Regions from separate parts of the Homo sapiens genome. Here region 2 is linked to region 1. Evidence: fine-mapped expression QTL. A gene starts in region 1. The other region holds a variant in brackets. All regions are shown on one strand. Distances are from middle to middle. Region 1 holds the start of ASAH1 (N-acylsphingosine amidohydrolase 1). Region 2 overlaps ASAH1 (N-acylsphingosine amidohydrolase 1).

What was found.
Region 2: its variant is fine-mapped to the expression of ASAH1 in whole blood (INTERVAL, PIP above 0.99). The same link has a PIP of 0.9 or more in blood mononuclear cells.

What each region holds. Positions count from the first base shown.
Region 1 is chr8:18,078,754-18,090,157 of GRCh38, reverse strand. It overlaps ASAH1 (N-acylsphingosine amidohydrolase 1), which reads left to right and starts at 6,051. Exons shown (of 14, transcript NM_177924.5): 1 at 6,051-6,177. The coding sequence starts at 6,100. It overlaps ASAH1-AS1 (ASAH1 antisense RNA 1), which reads right to left and starts at 5,290. Exons shown (of 5, transcript NR_125429.1): 1 at 5,219-5,290; 2 at 4,673-4,916; 3 at 3,222-3,275; 4 at 3,021-3,133. It also overlaps the pseudogene MRPS18CP3 and the pseudogene ABRAXAS1P2. RefSeq lists enhancers at 5,069-5,604, 5,405-5,684, 6,485-6,594 and a silencer at 5,935-6,134.
Region 2 is chr8:18,047,877-18,058,893 of GRCh38, reverse strand. ASAH1 (N-acylsphingosine amidohydrolase 1) reads left to right here. Exons shown (of 14, transcript NM_177924.5): 13 at 3-59; 14 at 1,271-2,902. The coding sequence ends at 1,360. Among named protein-coding and RNA genes, the nearest start is that of ASAH1, 31 kb to the left of the region's middle. RefSeq lists an enhancer at 4,705-5,278. The variant C/T (reference allele first, on the strand shown) is at 4,498.

The sequences.
Region 1 (11,404 bases):
CCAGCACTTTGGGAGGCTGAGGCGGGTGGATCACCTGAGGTCAGGAGTTCGAGACCAGCCTGGCTGACATGGTGAAACCTCGTCTCTACTAAAAATACAAAAAATTAGCTGGGCATGGTGGTGGGCGCCTGTAATCCCAGCTACTTGGGAGGCTGAGGCAGGAAAATTGCTTGAATCCGGGAGGCAGAGGTTGCAGTGAGCCAAGATCGGGCCACCTCACTCCAACTTGGGTGACAGAGCTAGACTCCATCTCAAAAAAAAAAAAAAAAGAATAGCATTACTGATTCCCAAATAGATGATGCTGAAGTTGTTTATACAATTGACATTCAGAAATATATTCCATGCTATCAGTTTTTTAGTTTTTATAATTCTTCAGGTGAAGTAAATAAGCAGGCACTGAGGAAAATATTATCAAATTCACAAAAAATGTGGTAGGTTGTTACAAATTCCATCGTCATTCAGATCAGATCATGACATTTAGAGAGAGGCTGCTTCACAAAAACTTGCAGGAGCATTTTTCAAACCAAGACCTGGTTTTTCTGCTATGAACACCAAGTATAATAACAGAAAGCCGCTCTACTCATCGACTGGAACATGCCTTATATAAACCTCGAAAAGGACTTTTTCACAGGGTACCTTCAGTGGTTGCCAATCTGGGCATGTCTGAACAACTAGGTTATAAAACTGTATCAGGTTCCTGTATGTCCACTGGTTTTAGCCGAGCAGTACAAACACACAGCTCTAAATTTTTTGAAGAAGATGGATCCTTAAAGGAGGTACATAAGATAAATGAAATGTATGCTTCATTGTAAGAGAAATTAAAGAGTATATGCAAAAAAGTGGAAGACAGTGAACAAGCAGTAGATAAACTAGTAAAGGATGTAAACAGATTAAAACGAGAAATTGAAAAAAGGAGATGAGCCCAGATTCCAGCAGAACGAGAGAAGAGCATCCAAAAAAGACCCTCAGGAGAACATTTTTCTTTGTCAAACATTATGGACCTTTTTTCCAGATTCTGAATTCTTCATGCATGTGTTATGTCTTTAAAAAAACAGACATGTTTCTAAAGGTAGCTCTAACAACCACCACCATCTCGATGTAGTAGACAATCTGACCTTAATGGTAGAAAACACTGACATTCCTGAAGCTAGTCCAGCTAGTACACCACAAATGGTTAAGCATAAAACCTTAGACTTAGCTGACAGATGGCAGTTCAAGAGATGACGGCGGACGGATCACGAGGTCAGGAGATCGAGACCATCCTGGCTAACACAGTGAAACCCCATCTCTAATACAAAAAAATTGGCTGGGCGCGGTGGCTCACGACTATAATCCCAGCACTTTGGGAGGCCAAGGTGGGCGGATCAGGAGGTCAGGAGACAGAGACCATCCTGGCTAACATGGTGAAACCCTGTCTCTATTAAAATACAAAAAATTAGCCCGGCGTGGTGGCAGGTGCCTGTAGTCCCAGCTGCTTGGGAGGCTGAGGCAGGAGAATGGTGTGAACCCAGAAGGCGGAGCTTGCAGTGAGCTGAGATCCTGCCACTGCACTCCAGCCTGGGCTACAGAGGAATACTTCGACTCAGGAGAAAAAAAAAAAAAAAAAAGAGTGTTCACGGCTGTTAGACACACAAGACAAACCATCTAAAACAGATACTGATAGTAGTAACCAATAAAAAAGCATCCAAAATGAGCAGCCCAGAAACAGATGAAGAGATTGAAAAGATGAAGGTTTTGGTGAATATTCACGGTCACCTACATTTTGATCCTTTTAACCTTAAAAGGAGATTTTTTTAATTTGGCTGATGGGTAAAGTCAAACATTTCCATTGTTTTTACTAGGTTGAGCTACTTGCAGTAATACAGGTAAGTTCATTTGTTTTTACTATATTCACCTCTTTGCAGTAATCCACAGATAAGTCTTAGTGCATTTATTTTACAAAGTACTTTTTCAAACATCAGATCCTTTTATTTCCAAACCTTTTTTCGCCTTTCAATAAGTTGTTGAGGGAAAGGCTTACACACATTCTTTAGAATTGGAAAAGTGAGGCCAGGCACAGTGGCTCACAGCTGTAATCCCAGCACTTAGGGAAGACAAGGCAGGAATGATTGAGGCCAGGAGTTAGAGACCAGCCTGGGCAACACAGTGAGACCCATCTCTATTAAAAAAAAAAAAAAAGTATTAGAAAAGCTAGAATAGCCTTATTTTCACAATGTGGAAAGAAATTTATATGAAATTTATCTGAGTCATTAAAATTATCCTTAGGTGATAATTTTTTAGAAGTACATTACAGCTAGTGTTGCCAGATAAAATGCTGGATCTCACGCAGTACCTTTGCAAAACATGATCTAAAATTTAAATTTGTCCTACATTTGTACTTGCTAAATCTGGCAGCCTTAATTATTACACAACTATAACGCAACACAAACAATAATCTCTCCCCTAGTTTAGAGTCCTTTGCACGAAATTTAGCAAATCCTTAATTTTGAGTACAGTACAAGCCTGGTAATCCAGTGTGTTTGGGATAGGCTGGTGGAACTCAGAACTGATACATATATACATACATGTCTATCACATTCACTGTCTATTAGGTGTAAATCATCTTTTTATGTAAAAGACACTACTGGTTTGAGGATAGAGTTGTCTAGGAATGTTTTGTCCTGCTGTGACAGCATCACTATGCATCCCAGTGTAACATTCCTACAAAGGGAAGATCTCTTAACCAGGCATACTTACATTTGCTAGTTAGAAAACCATTCTGAGCAGTTTTAACTCCATTCAGTTGAATGGTGTACTACATTGTATGAGCTATTTGTGGACCAGATATAAATGACTATCACCCAGAACCACTTTCATTCAACATATGTAAAATGTGATGAGTGTTAACATTTTAAATAAGCGATCTGCTTAATGAACACTGATTGGTATGAAGGGGAAGTGTCATTCTTTACCTCACTCCTGAAACACTTTTCTATCCAAAGGTTGGTTTGAGTCAGTATTGGCGTCATACAACCACTTACTATAAAATAAGTTTACTGGTGGTAATGTGATGGAATTTATTCCGGATATCTGATGTTATAAACTTTAGGGTCCCTGAAATATGCAGGATCCTTGTATGTAACTGGCATAAACCCTGTAAAGAGATAATTAAAGTTCTTGACAAAGCATAATGAGCAAAATTTCAGCTAGCTCAATACAGTTGTTGAGGTGCTCTTTCTTACCCATTGTTTGAGCTCTCTTAATTGCTTTTGTGATTTGTTTCTTCCCACAAAGACCTGTAAAATAAAAAGCTTCCTTATTCATAAAAAAGTCAATATTTAAAGTTAAAAAAATGTTTATTTCTCAAACTGAAACATTATTTCTCTATCTCTTGACCTTTTAGTACACGTTTTTGTATATTCGGTTTTACTAAATCAAGTCAAACCTGTTCCAGGTAATGTGATGTTATACATGATAGGTTTCATTTAGGGTGGGGTGGCTAAGTTGCAACCCTTTTAAATCAAGGCTCCACCTCAGGAACCTAGGAATGTTAGGTAGGAGATGAGGAAGTCCACAGCTTGCCAAGAACTTCAGCTATTCCATAAACAATCTGATTACATATCCCGACTCTTGCACACGAAACAGGTTATCCAAGTCTTAAACTTGATGCTTTTGTGCAGTATGAACCACCCTTTCCGTGGACATAATCATGCATTTGCACATTTAAATACCATTTTCTATGAACAGATCAGTATGCCAAAAACCACTGCAAAGTCTCCTACACACACCTTGCCTTGACTTTCTGTACATTTCTAGTATTAAAGAATGGTGTAGGCAAAATAAAGATATATGTGTAAGAAAAAAAAGACATGCATGAAATGGTTTAATTTTAGGGAACTAGATTTATATTTTATCTGAAAAGAGTATTAATAATATATAATAGACCTTTGAAAGTTAGACGCATAGTTCTGCGAAAGTGGTGCCTAAGAATAGTATGTCAATTGACAAATTTTTTCCATAAAGAATCTGATTTTGCTAGACTACCTAATCACCAATTAACATCCTCCAGTAGGGAAAAAAATATGCTTGGTGACATGTTTAAATCGCTCTCAAGAGTACTGAAGATGAATGATCTTCCAATCAAGTAGCTATTTGATTTAGTAATAACAACTAAAAGATGGGAATCCTCTTCTTCGCACACTCATTTTAAGCTCCAAGGTAATTCCATAGATTCAACATTTAACACGTATATTCAATATTACACATTTTTTTTCCGGAGTGAAATGGCTCTGAATGCCTTACAGAATTTGCCCTGCTCTCCTTAACTAAATACTTTGTCTATTAATACTTCTTTCTTCTTTTCCCCTTGTTCTTTCTGTGCCAGACCCACACACGTCTGCTGTAATTGAACATGCCAGGCACATTCTCCATTTAAAGCCTTTTAACAGCTGCTGTCTCTGCCTAGAATACTCTTACTTGGGCACACACAAAACTAGCTTCCTGGTCTCCCTCAACTGTCTGCTCAAACTTCACCTCCTTAATCATGTCTATCTGTCCCTCTTATTTAAAATTGTAACTCTACCACTTCTGATCTCCACACTTGATGCCCCTGGCCTCCCTTTTCCTCCACTGCATTTGTCACTAACATCCCGTATAATTTTCTTAGGTATTATGTTTATTGCCCATTTCTCACCGAGAACATACGCCTCAGGGTGGAAGAAGTTTGTCTTTTTGTTGTTGTTCACTGCTTATCCCCAGTGTCAGGAGACATGCTTGGCACATTGTAGGTCCGCAGTAAATATTTTTTGAATTAATAAAGAATATTTCTACCATCTGCTAGCTTACTGTTCATGCAGGAGCTCAAATGTGCTTTAAGCATGTGATATGTTTCAAAAGTCAAACTTCATCCTTAGGGAGAACACTGTCATCTTCTCCTCCTTTAAAAAAAAAAAATAGGAAAAAAAGCAAAACAAAACATCACCTTCTCATTTCCCCACCTCCAACAAAAAGAGTGTTGAGTTTTCTAAAGAAATAATACAAATGGATAAAACTGCAATTTGTTGTCCTTTCTCTCACATGCAAAAAGAAAAGAAAAAATACTGCCGAGATTTCGGCAGCGTGCTGAGCTTCATCAAAGCATTAAAACAATGCTGCTTGAGACGTCAGAGGCTCATCCAGGAAGTGCAACCCAGAGGGCAGGATTTCCTGCTGGACTTTGAAATCCAACCCGGTCACCTACCCGCGCGACTGTGTCCACGGATGGCACGAAAGCCAAGCGAGTCCCCCTGCCGAGCTACTCGCGTCCGCCTCCTCCCAAGCTGAGCTCTGCTCCGCCCACCTGAGTCCTTCGCCAGTTAGGAGGAAACACAGCCGCTTAATGAACTGCTGCATCGGGCTGGGAGAGAAAGCTCGCGGGTCCCACCGGGCCTCCTACCCAAGTCTCAGCGCGCTTTTCACCGAGGCCTCAATTCTGGGATTTGGCAGCTTTGCTGTGAAAGCCCAAGTGGGTAACCAACAGCTTGGAGGACCCGAGTGGATTCGATTCTCTCTCACTCCTCGGCCACTCAACTGCTCCTTGTCCCTGACTCCGCGGTGGGGATGAATAACTCAACTCATTTCGGGCCGCTTTTCTCAGAGGGCAAAGATGGGTCAGGGTGGGATGTTACATTAGTGTTGAGACTCTTTGGATCCGTTTCGTGGGTACCGAGGACGCCTGGGTACGCGGGACAGGCTGCACCCGCCTGCTAGAGGCGCCCCATCGAGGCGCCACGGGTGAAGCTCCCGGCCCCACCTACGGGGCGGGGCTCCGGCTCGGTCCGACTATTGCCCGCGGTGGGGGAGGGGGATGGATCACGCCACGCGCCAAAGGCGATCGCGACTCTCCTTCTGCAGGTAGCCTGGAAGGCTCTCTCTCTTTCTCTACGCCACCCTTTTCGTGGCACTGAAAAGCCCCGTCCTCTCCTCCCAGTCCCGCCTCCTCCGAGCGTTCCCCCTACTGCCTGGAATGGTGCGGTCCCAGGTCGCGGGTCACGCGGCGGAGGGGGCGTGGCCTGCCCCCGGCCCAGCCGGCTCTTCTTTGCCTCTGCTGGAGTCCGGGGAGTGGCGTTGGCTGCTAGAGCGATGCCGGGCCGGAGTTGCGTCGCCTTAGTCCTCCTGGCTGCCGCCGTCAGCTGTGCCGTCGCGCAGCACGCGCCGCCGGTGAGTGAGCTTGAGCCGAGGCGCAGAGAGGGGCGTGCAGGTGCGGGCGCGGATGGAGGCGCAGGTGTGGCGGCGCGAGCGGGTACAAGGAACACCTCGTGCTGGGCAGCTTCTTTACGGGGGTCTGTGGTTTCGTGCACAGGGGTGTGGGTGCAGAGCGGGCTGGCGAACCCCGTCCTCGGTAGATTCGGTGCTACCTGCAACTAGAACTCCTTTAAAGGAAATCCTAGTCTCTGCAGGATACCTGGGTGTGATTCGCACATTCTTAGATTTGAGTGAGTGTACTTGAATAACCAGTTCCAGGCCCTTGCATTTTGAAGTGTTTAAATAAAATGTTCCGGTGGACCTGTGTGCATTACTCAATCAAGGACAGACTGCCTGATGGTCAGGTGCTTTCTCCCGAAGAAGTTCAGGAGTTCAGCCCAGGATACTGCAGGGCCGTGGGAAACGCTGAGTGGTCCCAAGCTTGGGCGGTGCGAGCAGCCCAGAGCAGGCCCCAAAGGGCCCCCTGTGGCCTTTTGCACCCAAGTCATGGGATCGCCTGTCCCGTGGCTCTTTCCCACGAGCAAGTCACAGGGCTACGGACTTCCTAACTGCAAGAGACAGTGAGGGACGAGCGTGACTCTTTCATTTTACAGAAGAGGAAGTAGACCTAGAGTGAGAAAATATTTAGCCAGAGGTTACACTGTTGTTTACTGAACATGCGTAACGTCCGAGCCTCTTGACGCCCAGTACTCTTTCATAATTCATTTCTTTATAAAGCAATCAGACTGCGTTTGTCTTTGCCAACAGAATCGGATAAGTAGGAACCTGGCGCATCTGGCCTGAGGCTAGATGGTGATGGTCTTGAATAGTTTAGGTAGGTTATTGAAAGTGGAAGCAAGATGTGCATTGTCTTCTTTTATACCTGTAAGGAGAAATTCTTTAAAATCATGGTGGGATATGATTTAGCCATTAAAATTGATATAATGTTCAGCAGATAAAAGTAGAATCCAGAATAGTATATACAGTTTTTCCTGTAATAGGAAAATACACAGAACATGTATGTGGACACGATTAAAGGCCTTAAAATAAAATTGCTCCATTGTGGGTAGGGAATTAATTTGCTTGACGGTAGTTGGTTTTATGGGAATTGGGAGAGACTTTGATACTTTGATACTGTCAGGGCCCTTCATTGAAAGACCACCAGGAACACACCATAAGCTGAACAAATTGGGTTTAGTGTTCTTTGAGGCAAAGGAGACCACACACCATGAGCGACGGACGGTAGGTTATAGAAAAAAACCCATTACAGAATTTGAACTTCGGTTGCATGATTTGGGGTAAGACTGAGGAACCGGGCTTTGCTGTAGATAGAATGCTGTTAGAAGGTGGGGCAATTCTGACTGAGTAAAGAAGGAACAGCCATTCTGTTTAGCACGAGAAGGGGATGTTTGGTGTTTTGTGCGTTGCAGGTGCCCTTGTTTTTGTCTGTTCTTAGAGAAAATCTTCAAGTGGCATTGCTTTGTCTTGGTGTGTCATGTCTCAGAATAATCTTATCCGACGTAGGTATCTGTGGGATTGTTGATGTCCAGGAGGAAAACAGAGCTTACCTGGCTGTGAGTGTCAGATCGGCTTGTAATAATATTGAGAGATAGCTGTGGGACTCAGAGCAGTTTCAGGTGTTGGAGGCTGTTTTTTCTTCTTTCTCAATAGCTTTATTTATTCTAGCAAAAGTATTTTGATAGCTATTTTCAGAAGAAGAATTAACAACCTCTCAATGGATATAATAGTTCTTATCTAGAACAGCGATTATCAAAGTCTAGTCTGGCCACTGGTGTCACTTTGGGAAGCTGTTTTCACAGGTTTTCAATGAAACTGGAAAAATAAGAATGCAAAACTAAAATTATTAATTTAGAATGTTAATCTTTACTCTGATTGTATGGACTTCAAGTTTTCATTGTTGCAAACGTGTTCTTAAAAATAACGGCAGAGGTAGATGTTATGTGCATGGAATTTGTTTTGTTTTAACATCTCCATTTGGCAGAATAAAAATTTGGACCCTCCTGTGCCAAGGCCTCATTAATTTTTTTTTACTGGCCTGGAAAATCCTGGGATCCATGCACTGAAGGACCTTTAGAACCTTACAGAAGTTTAGTGACTTCATTCTCTGAGAAGAATAAGCAGTTTTTCAACTGGAGTCATTATATGATAAACTATAGCCTCATGGTAACAAAAGATATTTCAAAAGTACTTTCAATAAATATGAATAATGAGAAGCAGCTTTAAATTGGAAACAAGTCATTTGATTTAGAACATCTGTAAGGATTTTTTGTGTGTTTGTTTTTGAGGCTTTTCACAATATTCCTATGTGAAGGTCCTCCTGAGTTATTCTTCATTATTGAATTTTTTAGGAGTCTATTAAGAGATGATGGTGAAGACAGTGGCACAAGAAATGTCTGGAGAGATAGCGCCAGATGACATCATCCAGGGTTCTGTAGACTCTTATTAAGGATTCAGAAATTTATCCTAAAAAATGGGAGGATCTGGAACCAGCCAATGGGAGGCCATTAGATGGTTTTAGACAAGATAACATTTTCACTTTAAAAAGATGAGTCTGGATTGGAGGTCAGCAAGGGTAGATATGAGGAGACTAGTCCAGAAAAGAAAACAGGGTGCGTTGAAGGATGGTGGCGCCAGGGGTGAGGGAGAGAAGTAGATGTTCTAGAAAAAAATCAGGAGGGCGAATGAGCTGAAGGAATCGTTGGGTGAGGATGAGGGAGTGAGGTGTCAGCGTGACCTGCACATTGCTGAAGTGCTTCGCTGGGCGAATGGTGGCATCCGTTCCAGGAAACATGGGGAGGGGAAAGCTTGGGGGCTAAAGAATGAGGATCGTTTTCATTTGGGGTGTATGTTAAATTTCAGGTGGCAGAGAGGCATCCAGCAGGCCACTCGGACTGGCACTCAGAAGAGAGACACTGAGAGTCACTGGCATAATGATATTATATTTGAAGCCCTTGGAGCAGATGAACTTACCTAGAAATAGGATAGAGAAAGAGAAGAAAAGAGAACTAGGCAAAGGCTAAGTAACTTGCACATGTATGTGTCAAGAAGAGGAGAAATTGCCAAAGTTAAAACAGGACAGGCCGGGCGCGGTGGCTCATGCCTGTAATCCCAGCACTTTGGGAGGCCAAGGTGGGCAGATCACGTGAGGTCAGGAGTTTGAGACTAGCCTGGCCAACATGGAGAAACCCTGTCTCTACTAAAAATACAAAAATTAGCTGGGCATAGTGGCTCACGCCTGTAGTCCCAGCTACTCAGGAGGCTGAGGCGGGAGAATTGCTTGAACCTGGGAGGGAGAGGTTGCAGTGAGCCAAGATCCTGCCATTGCACTCCAGCCTGGACAATGAGCGAAACTTCGTCACAGAAAACAAAAACAAAAAAATAGGAGAGTAAGTGGAACAGGAAGCTCAGGGAAGAGACTGGGACAGGTTAACTATGTTGAATATTATTGAGATGTCAGTGGTATTATGATGTTGGGCAACTGGAGGTCATTGGTCACCTCGACTGGAGCAGTGTTGGGGGCAGAAAACAGCTTGCGGTAGGCTAAGTGTGATTGGCAGGAAAGGAACTAGAGGGGAGAGATGGCTGCTCTGCGTAATAAATCTGACCCACTTCATAAGATGTGCGAAGATGAAACGTAATGGCTTAGTAATTAATTGCCAAAGTAAACTTGTAAACTCATTTTTATGCATCAGCTTCTCATACTAGTTAACAGCGTATGTCAACATTGTTGACATTAGCTATTGAATCAGCTTTAGCAATGATTTTCACGCAGTTGCCAGAAATCTCATAGACCCCATCTGGCCTAGGAATTTATTGCACTTCATCTGCTTTTCCCTACTTCTCCCAAAGAGGGAACACACAGGTGTAATCCATTCACTTATTCAACAAATACTGCTTGCCTACTATGTGCCAGACTCCTAAACGCTGGGAATGCGTCAGCCAATGAGATAGATGAGGTCCTTCCTCTCATGGAGGGTTTATTCACATTCCTTTGACCTAAATATCAGTAGCTTAATAGGATGCCATCCCATCAAAGCCCAGAAGACAAGTGAAAACATTTTCAAGCTCATGTGAATTCTTGTACACGTAGGAAACATGCCTCTTTGTATTCAGTGTTTCTGCTGAGTTGTACATAAGAGGACATTATAGGAAAAACTTGTCTGCAAAATAGTTGTTGATGAATTCAAGAATTGAATGAATGAAAAATTGTCTGGCTAGAGTTGTTTGGCTTCTGGTGGGTATGAAAACTGACATGAGGTATGTAATTTTAGATTATCCTTCATTGTCTCTTTCTGAGTATTTCAATAAGACAAGCACACAAGGGCTTTCTGGACTTTTAAAATTCACTATTAGAAGCATACATTATTTCATTGAGGGTCTCCTAATTCTTTCGGGCTCAAATATTTTAAGGAGCTGTACAAGTTATGCCATTTTTTAAGGGTATGGCGCTTTCATTGAGACCTTAATGTTCTCTTTATATTTTTGTGTTTTTTTTAGAATGTTGTGTTCAGTAGCTCTGTAATTAATTTCTCTTAATGAATGGGGAGGACATTCAAAGAGGCTTAAGTTTCTATCAAATAACCAGAAAAATTAGAGAATTTTCTGACCCAAACAGTCTTTTAAAAGCACTTTCCAGAGAGTTTTTTGTTTTTTTTTTTTTTCTGAGATGGAGTCTTGCTCTGTCTCCCAGGCTGGAGTGCAGTCACACTATCTCGTCTCACTGCAACTTCCACCTCCCGGCTTCAGGCAATTCTCCTACCTCAGCCTTCCGAGTACCTAGGATTACAGGCACATGCCACCCAGCTAATTTTTGCATTGTTAGTAGTAACGGGGATTTCGCCATGTTGGCCAGGCTGGTCTTGAAGTCCTGACCTCAGGTGATCCACCCACCTCAGCCTCCCAAGGTGCTGGAATTACAGGCATGAGCCACCATGCCTGGCCCAGAGAGTTTCAAATGCATTGAAATATCAGATTTTTACCACTTATCTTCACTCTTAGGAGACCACTGAGGGGCAGGGAGAAAGGTAGGGAAGGGCAGGGAGAGAGAGAGAAAGAGAGGTACTGTGGGGAGAGGGTTAGAGAGAATTGATTCTAAGTTGGATTTTGTTTCCTGTGATAGGGTGTACATAGTATACCATCCAGACCACATAATCTCTCTTCTTATCATCTGTTTCTAATCTTT
Region 2 (11,017 bases), 31 kb after region 1:
AGAATATCTCATTTGAAACCATGTATGATGTCCTGTCAACAAAACCTGTCCTCAACAAGGTATTTTAAATGTTATATGTATATTTGCCTTTTAGGGAAAGAATTTGGCCCTATGTTTTATCTTTCTCTGTTATCTTTGATCAGTTTGAGCACAAAAGGTGTGTTCAGCTTAGGACTGATTTTTTATTAAAAAATGTTTTTGTGTGGCTAAAACTGTATTTTGGAATACAAGAAAGAAATTGATCACTGAGGCTTGATAGGTCAGAATATTGTTTATAGCTTTATTTACATAGCATTTGAATTAAGGCTAGCATTTTACTCTTATTGGTATCTATTAAAAATCTCACACTATATAACTAACACCTAAATGTCAACAAAACAAAGTCTGCAGTCCATTTTCAGACAGAGCTCTGTGTCTTGGTGGGTTCGGGTTTCCCTTAAACTTTACTACATCTGTTTATCTTTTCCCTACACTGTAGTTTTAAAAAAATGCAAAAAGTTTCCTATCATCCCACCACTCGCTAACAATCATTCCCTGAACGTTCTGAATATGCCCCCCTAATTTTCCCATTTGTTCCTTCTTTTCTTGGTCCTTCTCCACAGCTCTCCCTAAAGTAAACATGCCGCCTTTACCCTGCCAGGACAAATCCCTCCGGCCTTTAGCATCCAGGTCACCCTGGCTCTCACAGGAAGCCTGCCTTCAGTTCACGGGCCCTGCCATACTTGCGTTTTGCCTATACCATCTTTGAGCAAGTCACAATCTCGTGACTTGTGTTTGGGTGTGTGCCTTGTGATCTGGGTGCCTGCAGTTTCCCCCACTGTATTGGAAATGCTTTAAGGATAGGGATAGCCAAAGCTCCACGGTTTTTACTCCATAGGACACCGGCAGGTCTCCCAGGACTGCCAGCTGTGCGTCAAGGAGGGTTAAGGCAGTCTTAAAGCATTGGGGGTGGAGCAATGTGCTGTCAGGAATAAGCTCCTATAAGGAGCTGGAGATTCTTTCCTGAGCCTGTTTATATTCATTACCTGAAACAGTGATCCTGTTGAAGTTGTTTGCTTTAGTTATTTGGTGAGACTTTAGCTAATTTTATATGATTATACTATATTAATATAAATATATACATTATATAACATGCTTTGCATATATTAAGTTATATTATTTAATATTAAATAACTTCTAAAGCAAATTCTACAAGTATAGAAATGCTAATATATATCAGAACATCTCTGAATTGAAAACGTCCTTAAAGTAAAAATAACTTTTCTTTCAGCTGACCGTATACACAACCTTGATAGATGTTACCAAAGGTCAATTCGAAACTTACCTGCGGGACTGCCCTGACCCTTGTATAGGTTGGTGAGCACACGTCTGGCCTACAGAATGCGGCCTCTGAGACATGAAGACACCATCTCCATGTGACCGAACACTGCAGCTGTCTGACCTTCCAAAGACTAAGACTCGCGGCAGGTTCTCTTTGAGTCAATAGCTTGTCTTCGTCCATCTGTTGACAAATGACAGATCTTTTTTTTTTCCCCCTATCAGTTGATTTTTCTTATTTACAGATAACTTCTTTAGGGGAAGTAAAACAGTCATCTAGAATTCACTGAGTTTTGTTTCACTTTGACATTTGGGGATCTGGTGGGCAGTCGAACCATGGTGAACTCCACCTCCGTGGAATAAATGGAGATTCAGCGTGGGTGTTGAATCCAGCACGTCTGTGTGAGTAACGGGACAGTAAACACTCCACATTCTTCAGTTTTTCACTTCTACCTACATATTTGTATGTTTTTCTGTATAACAGCCTTTTCCTTCTGGTTCTAACTGCTGTTAAAATTAATATATCATTATCTTTGCTGTTATTGACAGCGATATAATTTTATTACATATGATTAGAGGGATGAGACAGACATTCACCTGTATATTTCTTTTAATGGGCACAAAATGGGCCCTTGCCTCTAAATAGCACTTTTTGGGGTTCAAGAAGTAATCAGTATGCAAAGCAATCTTTTATACAATAATTGAAGTGTTCCCTTTTTCATAATTACTCTACTTCCCAGTAACCCTAAGGAAGTTGCTAACTTAAAAAACTGCATCCCACGTTCTGTTAATTTAGTAAATAAACAAGTCAAAGACTTGTGGAAAATAGGAAGTGAACCCATATTTTAAATTCTCATAAGTAGCATTCATGTAATAAACAGGTTTTTAGTTTGTTCTTCAGATTGATAGGGAGTTTTAAAGAAATTTTAGTAGTTACTAAAATTATGTTACTGTATTTTTCAGAAATCAAACTGCTTATGAAAAGTACTAATAGAACTTGTTAACCTTTCTAACCTTCACGATTAACTGTGAAATGTACGTCATTTGTGCAAGACCGTTTGTCCACTTCATTTTGTATAATCACAGTTGTGTTCCTGACACTCAATAAACAGTCACTGGAAAGAGTGCCAGTCAGCAGTCATGCACGCTGATTGGGTGTGTACATCTGTGTTGGTTTGGAGGAGGGGGGTTATTATCAAGAAATACAAGCTGAACATCGTATCTGAATTAAATAACAAGGGTTATGTAAGTGGGTTATTAAATATGACTAAACGGTCACAATCTTACTCTTACATGACTGATACCACCTCTTAACCAGATACTATCAACCCAATTTGCAGGTGTTTAAAGGCAGTTTTTCCCCCAGATAGGTGGTGCTTCCACAAAACTTTAGTGATTCCAAGATTACTTTAGTGAAACGAGGAATTATAAGAGGATTTACATTAAAATAGGATTTAATTAATGAAAAAAAAACTTTACTCAGATTTTCTACCTCTTACATAAATGAAGTCAGGTCAACTTGATGTATTTTTTTGTTAATGTAATAACCTTTGATATGCCTGATAGTAAAGAGGTGAGATGCTAATTGTTTCAGACCGATTTCTCCGGAGTAAATCAAAGTTTACAAGAAATAACAGGTATTAAGATTTTAGGAAGTAATTGTTTAGTGGTAAAGCAGTTTTAAAATAGGATATACAGGATGAGCCTGTTTATATAACACTTTATATATGTACTTATGCATAACTAGATACACATCTAGAATATCAAAAGATGACTGGGAGGATATTAACCAAAATGCTGACTGTAGTTCCTACTGGATAATGGCAAGTGCTATTTTAATTTTGAGAGGACAAAACTTAGTAGCCATTGGACATTAATGAGACTCTATTTTTAGAAATACTATAAAAAAATAAGGTCCAGGTTGGATCCAAACCATGGGCTCCATCTAATTTCCCTGCCAAGTTTTCGGGAGTTTGATTGTGAATGGAAGGCTGAATCCTACCTGTATTCCTTCACACATCGAGCTCCTCAGTCACTCATCTTAATTAGAGCTCTTGCTTATCCATTTATGTACCAGGCCTTGTGATTGATAAGGTGCTTGACCTAGATTACCTCCTCAGCAAACCCCGGTATCACTTGTAATCACACTTGCCAGCCATGGAAGTAACTTGCTGAAAGTTGCATTAACAGAAGGGCTTAGAGCCAGGGTTTTAGCCAGGTCTGTCCAACTCCTGCGCTCTTATGACACCCGAATTCTTGACTTTACAAGTAGGATTGAGAAACAGCTCTGTCCTATGAGACCCACACTTCTGCTGCCATGGACCAGGCCACCCTGCTGAGCCTGGACACCACTGTGTCACTGCCTTCTACTTGTTCTGTGTCAATTATTAATGTTCCCATAGGGATCAGAAACCCTTTGGTGTTAGGAGCTGACAGGTCACCTGTTTTTGACTACCCTGAGTCTGAATCGTGCTCAGCTTGTGGGGAATGCGTTAAGAGCTCCTCAGTCTTTCTGTGGCTGTGACCCAGGAGTACGTGAAAAATATGAATAGTTCAGAAATTTATAAAAAGTCACTATAAAACCTCACACAGTCATTATTGAAGTTAGTCTCACAAAGTGAAGCATAGTTTTTGTTTATTGGTGACAATTTACAAAATACTTGCCAGCTTAGCCTCACATATGACAGATGTGACCAGCAGGCTCCAGACCACACCGAGCTGCATGCTGGCCCCGTCTACAAGCCTGGGGAAGTGTGGCTGGGCTCCTCAACCTTCACAACTTGGGGAGGTTGCTCAGCTCACATGAAAATCAGTCCTCTCTTTTTCCCTAGGGCACTCTGTCCCTCTTATGTTGATAAAGTGGGTTTCCCAGCCAGGTGGCACAGGGGATGCTAGACTGGTGTGCGTTGGGCAATTCTCTGTGGCAGTTCTGGACATCTTCAAGGATGCTTGTCTAGGCAGAGGACAGATTTGTTTCCTGACTACGGTAATAAAGATCATCATCTACCTGTAGGGCAAAGGTTGGATGAGTTGATTGGAGAAGCAGCCCATCTTATAACTCGAGGGGTTTCCTGAGCTTGGGGTTCCTCAGCTGTGATACAGATGATACATCATAAATTGGGTTGTCACACATCACCTCCTTGGGGGACTTGGGGTGGGGGGCAAATGGCATTCCCAGAG[C/T]AATACAGTCCTTTGCCTTTGGCCCAGGAGTCTGCCAGCATCCAGGAAGCTGTGGCAGGCTAGGTCATTAGCTTGCAAGCAGGGTAAAATCTCAGGCCCTTCACAGGGCCGCAGCTTTGGGGCAGCTGGGCAGGGTCTAGGCATACCAGCCTCCAGGCTGCCTCCCACAGCCCGGGCTTCCTCTGGGGCTCCTTGAAGGGCAGACTGGGACAGTGATACGGTTTGGGCCTGTGTCCTCACCCAAATCTCATCTCGATTTGTCAAGGGAGGGACCAGGTGGAGTTGATTGGAGCATGGGGGTGGTTTCCCCCATGCTGTTCTCGTGATAGCTAGTGAGCTCTCACGAGAGCTGATGGTTTTAAAGTGTGGTGCTTCCTGGTTCTCCGACTTGCTTCTCTCCTGCCTTGTGAAGGCGTCGTCTCCCGCCCTCTTGCCTTCTGCCACGATTGTCAGTTTCCTGAGGCCTCCCCAGCCATGCGGAACTGTGAGTCGATTAAACCTCTTTACTTTATAACTTAGCAGTGCGAAAACGGACTAATACAGACAGAGTGGGATAGACTGCATCCCTCTGTGTTCTCACAGGCTGGGAAGGGAGGTGTGGGGCATGCAAGGTATGGAGAAAGTTAGTAAAAATCACTGGCCCTGTGGACCAGAAGAGACCTGGGCCAACTAGGTTTTGCCTCTGTCAAATACAAAATCCTCATAAGGAAACTTAACCATTCAGCCCTCACTGGGGGCCCCCCCAATTGTTTTTCACCAAGACCCAAACTTGGCTTGGTCGTCCCGGTCGTCAGTGGCAGCAATAACACCTGGAACTTGTTGCTCCCATTGCAAGGTTGAGCAATAGCAGCTGGCCTGCAGATCTCACAGACAAGCGGCCTGTGGCACAACTGGAGTTTATGTTCCAGGTGCGCAGAATGCCGCACACAGCCCTGCTGCAGAGGTGGGAGGGAGGCGCATAGGCACTGCGGTCTCCTGGTGGATTCAGCTCCAGGCAGCATCCCAAACATTCACTTCACATGTATCTGATTACTGTGTCCATTTGTAGCTGACAGGCCAATTTGGAGGCATCTCAGCTGGCTGCCTATGACTGTTGTTAACAATTCAAGTGCTTTCTGCAAAATAGGGCATTGTTATTTTAAAATACTTCATTGGAATTTTTTGTTTTGTTTTGTTTTGTTTTGTTTTTTTGAGACAGAGTCATGCTCTGTTGCCCAGGCTGGAGTGGTCCAGTGGCGCCATCTCGCCTCACGGCAGCCTCCACCTCCCAGGTGCAAGCAATTCTCCTGCTTCATCCTCCAGAGTAGCTGGGATTACAGGTACCCACCACCACGCCCAGCTAAATTTTGTATTTTTAGTAGAGACGGAGTTTCACCGTGTTGGCCAGGCTGATCTCGAACTCCTGACTTCAAGTGAGCCGCCCGCCTTAGCCTCCCAAAGTGCTGGGGTTACAGGCGTGAGCCACCATGCTTGGCCGATATGGCAATTTTGATTGAATTCAAAACTCTTCCCAAGATAATTTAGTAGTACATGTATCAATGAAAGTTAAATAAAAATTAGTTTTCAAATATAATTCCAATTTCTGTAAATTCTTGAATGCTTGTACAACACTGCTTTAAATTTATCACTCAATTAGGCATACAAATTGATCCTTAATGATTTTTCAAAAATTTGAGGAGATCATAAAGTCTCGGCCAAGAATTGTGTATAACAATTTCAAATAGAAAATAGGTTATAAAAACACGTTAAGAAAATGGCCGGGCTCTGTGACTCACGCCTATAATCCTAGCACTTTGGGAGGCAGAGACGGGTGGATTGCCTGAACTCGGGAGTTCAAGACAAGCTTGGGTAACATGGTGAAACCCTGTCTCTACTAAAATACAAAAAATCAGCTTGGCAAGGTGCCGGGCGTCCGTAATCCCAGCTACTCAGGAGGCTGAGGCACGAGAATTGCTTGAACCCAGGAGGCGGAAGTTGCAGTGAGCCAAGATCATGCCACTCCACTCCAGCCTGGGCAAGAAAGTGAAACTCTGTCCAAAAAAAAAAAAAAAAAAGTCTATAGTTTTGCATTTTTATGTGTAATATCTCCCCTGATGCTTTATCTTCTGTTCATTACTTAGACATTTCATAATTAATATAAAGAAAATGTAATGAATTTTTCACCAAGTCCATATATCCCCTCTCGTTTACAAACACTATCCTTTTCAGTATGTACTGGGACATACAAACAGGCCAAAAGGTAACAAATCTCACATTGTTTCCATTGCTTCATCACCAGCCTGGGTGACCAGCGACACATGACTTAACTCCTTGCATCCCCATATCTGCCTTTGTAAAATGAGGGTTTAGATCCAATTTTCTCTAAGGATTCCTCTAGCTTGATAAATCTAGATTTAAATTGTGTCTCAGTTGCGCAGGGAATCCAGTAGCAGCCGACACCCAGGTGTGGTTGGACTCGTCAGAACCATTGTAGTCTTTGTTAGTCATACACATGCATGGGTGAAATCTAGTCAAAACTTTCATATCAAGTATTTCAAAATGATGCTCTACTTGGCAGAAAGCACATGCAGTTTGGGCAGTCACGGGCAGGTAGCCAAGATGCCTCCAAAGTGGCCTGTGAGCTGCAAATGACAGTTTCTACATGTATAACATATACAAAATATGATGTATATTTTAGTAGAGATGGAGTTTCATACATATATACAATTTATATATACACATATATATATAATTTGTACACACACACACAGATTTACAGTAAATATGTTTAAATTTGAAACCATAGTACCTGAGTTCAATGCCAACCCTCACTGAATGTCAGAAAAACATAGTAAGGCTGTGCATGGTGGCTCACACCTGTAATCCCAGCTCTTTGGGAGGCCAAGGCAGGAGCATCACGTGAGGCCAGAAGTTTGAGACCAGCCTGGGCAACATAGTGAGACTTGATGTATACTAAAAATCAAAAAATAACTAGCTAGGCTTTGCAGCATGCACCTGTGTCCCAGCTACTCAGGAGGCTGAGGCGGGAGGAGCACTTGAGCCTGGGAGATGGAGGCTGCGGTGAGCTGTGATCGCGCCACTGCACTCAAGCCTGGGTGACAGAGCAAGATTCTGTCTCAATTAAAAAGAAAAAAAAAGACATTTACATTATGCTCTATGATAGTCTAGTGGCCTACACAAATTCTGCTCTTCCCATGTTGTGGATATGAAATAATGAGGCAGGGTTGATAGCATTATTTCAAAATATTATAAGAAGTAGCAGTTCTAAGAAGTCAACTGCAAGGCTATGCATGTCCAAGGCTGTGTGTGGGTGAGTGAAATCGCCTTATGCCAAGGAGCCATAACCAAGGGGAAATTACTTGATGCATACACCAGTTCTTGCTTTTCACCTGCTCGGTACAATGGACCATACATATTACCAAATGGAATAAGTAAGACTTTTCATCTTAGTTACTGAGAAAAAGTATTCCTTGGTAAAGCAAACACCCAGTGATTGGCTCTGTTATTAAAGAATTAAGTTTACTGTCTTACTATAGAAAATCAAGTTTCAGTAGTTGAGTTTCATTACATTTTTGTTTCTGATTGTTACAGTTGCTGGGTGGGAACAATGTGTAAAGTTTTCACTTGTTTGCTTTCAAGGGTACTGACTTCATAATATATAGACATATACACACACACACATATACACACACACATATTCATGTGTGTGTGTGTATATGTCTCTGTCAAAGACACATATGCAGTAGTTTTTAAGTTATTACATTCATTGCCAATGAGCAATGGTGTATATAGGGGAAGATGAACTTGAGACTTGTTCTGGTGTTGTCTCTGGCACTCAGTTTTCCTATATTTAAAATGTGAAGGAAGTAAGGCACTATGAAAGATCTTTGATATCTGCAAAATTTTTAGGGCTGTCAAAGACAAGGGACTGTGAAAAGTTGACAGCCCTTTGTTGTTTGACTGGGTTTTTTAACCAAAAGAATATAGAAATCTATAGCGATCATATTAATATGTATTGAATAATACTACTGTCTTATAGACCAGATAAAAATTAATATTTTTAAAATCATTCTCCATGTGGAAAATCTGCTATAGCCAAAATAATCTAATAATATTAAAAATATTTCCCTATCATCTCCTTAAGTTCTCAATATGCTAAAAGCTAATATGATGGATTTTTAAAAATCTTAAGTGGTTGTTTAGGAAAAGTTATTATAGTTCTTATTTTTTTTAATCATATAATTGATAGACTGTTCTTCTGGATCCAAGATTTCAAGGGCTGAGTACAGGTGCTTAGTTAACTTGCATTTCTTTTTTCAACTTAGCTACGTAAGAACAGTGACAAATCTAGCATTAAAAATATACAAGAGCGGCCAAGCATGGTGGCTCACGCCTGTAATCCTAACTTTGGCAGGCCGAGGCAGGTGGATCGCCTGAGCTCAGGAGTTCGAGACCAGCCTGGGCAACGCGGAGAAACCCCATGTCTACTAAAATACAAATATTAGCTTGGCGTGGTGGCGGGCACCTGTAATCCCAGCTACTGGGGAGGCTGAGGCAAGAGAATCGCTTGAACCCAGGTGGCAGAGGTTGCAGTGAGCCAAGATTGTGCCACTGCACTCCAGCCTGGGCAACAGAGCGAGACTGTGTCTCAAAAAAATAAAATATACACAAGCTAATAAAAAAATTAAAGTGGATTATTAGAATCATGACCAAAGCAATTGTTATTTGGTGTATCATTCTGTATAAAATACTTTAAAATTTTAAAATATCTGTAGATGTGCCAAAATAGTGATAATACAAGTGTAAGGTTTTTTTAATTTTAATTTTGTTTTTCCATAAATTATTGCGGTACAGGTGGTATTTGGTTACATAAGTTTTTAGTGGTGAATTGAGAGATATTGGTGCACCCATCACCCGAGCAGTATATACTGCACTGTATTTGTTGTCTCTTATCCCTCGCCCCCCTCCCACTCTTCCCCCCAAGTCCCCAAAGTCCATTGTATCATTCTTATGCCTTTGCATCCTCATAGCTTAGCTATCACATATCAGCGAGAACATATGATGTTTGGTTTTCCATTCCTGAGTTACTTCACTTAGAATAATAGTCTCCAATCTCATCCAGGTCACTGCAAATGCTGTTAACTCATTCATTTTTATGGCTGAGTAGTATTCCATCATATGTGTGTGTGTGTGTGTGTGTGTGTGTATATATATATATACACACACACACACACACACACACACATACCACAGTTTCTTTATCCAATTGTTGATTGATGGGCATGTGGGTTGGTTCCACGATTTTGCGATTGTGAAATGTGCTGCTATAAACGTGTGTGCAAGTATCTATTTCGAATATGACTTCTTTTCCTCTGAGTAGATACCCAGTAGTGGGATTGCTGGATCAAATGGTGGTTCTACTTTTAGCTCTTTAAGGAATCTCCACACTGTTTTCCATAGTGGCTGTACTAGTTTACATTCCCACCAGTAGTGTAGAAGTGTTTTCTGCTCACTGCATCCATGCCAACATCTACCATTTTTGATTCTTTGATTATGACCATTCTTGCAGGAGTAAGGTGGTATCGCATTGTGGTTTTGATTTGCATTTCCCTAATCTTTAGTGATGTTGAGTATTTTTTCATATGTTTGTTGGCCGTGTGTATATCTTCTTTTGAGAATTGTCTATTCATGTCCTTAGCCCACTTTTTGACAGGATTGTTCTTTTCTTACTGATTTGTTTGGGTTGGTTGGAGATTCTGGATATTAGTCCACTGTCAGATGTATAGATTGTGAAGATTTTCTCCCACTCTGTGTGTTGTCTGTTTACTCTGCTGACTGTTCCTTTTGCTGTGCAAAAGCTCTTTAGTTTAATTAGGTCCCAGCTATTTATCTTTGTTTTTATTGCAATTGTTTTTGGGTTTTTGATCATGAAATCCTGGCCTAAGCCAGTGTCGAGAAGGGTTTTTCCAATGTTGTCTTCTAGAATTTTTATAGTTTCAGGTTTTAGGTTTAAGTCGTTAATCCAACTTGAGTTGATTTTTCTATCAGGTGAGAGATGAGGATCCAGTTTCATTCTCATACATGTGGCTAGCCAATTATCCCAGCACCATTTGTTGAAAAGGGTGTCCTTTCCCCACTGTGTTTTTGTTTGCTTTGTTGAAGATCAGTTGGCTGTAAGTATTTGAGTTTATTTCTGGGTTCTCTATTCTATTCCTTTGGTCTATGTGCCTATGACAAATTTATTTAGAAGAAATATTTTCTTATCTTTTCATGCTTTGCTTTAGATATTGCTACAAACTTTATTTAATAGTAATTTTAAATTTTGACTAGTAAAGTTATGTGAACCATGTACGGCAAAATAAAGGATTTCACTTAGACTTGTTTGCAGAGATAGCACCTTAAGCTTCCATTAGATCTGTTTTTATCAGCTCATCTTATCTCTGAGCTACCTGACACTTTATCTGTCTCATCAGGTACAATCATTTAAAAACCACTGAGCTAGGTTATCTTAAAATTTTCT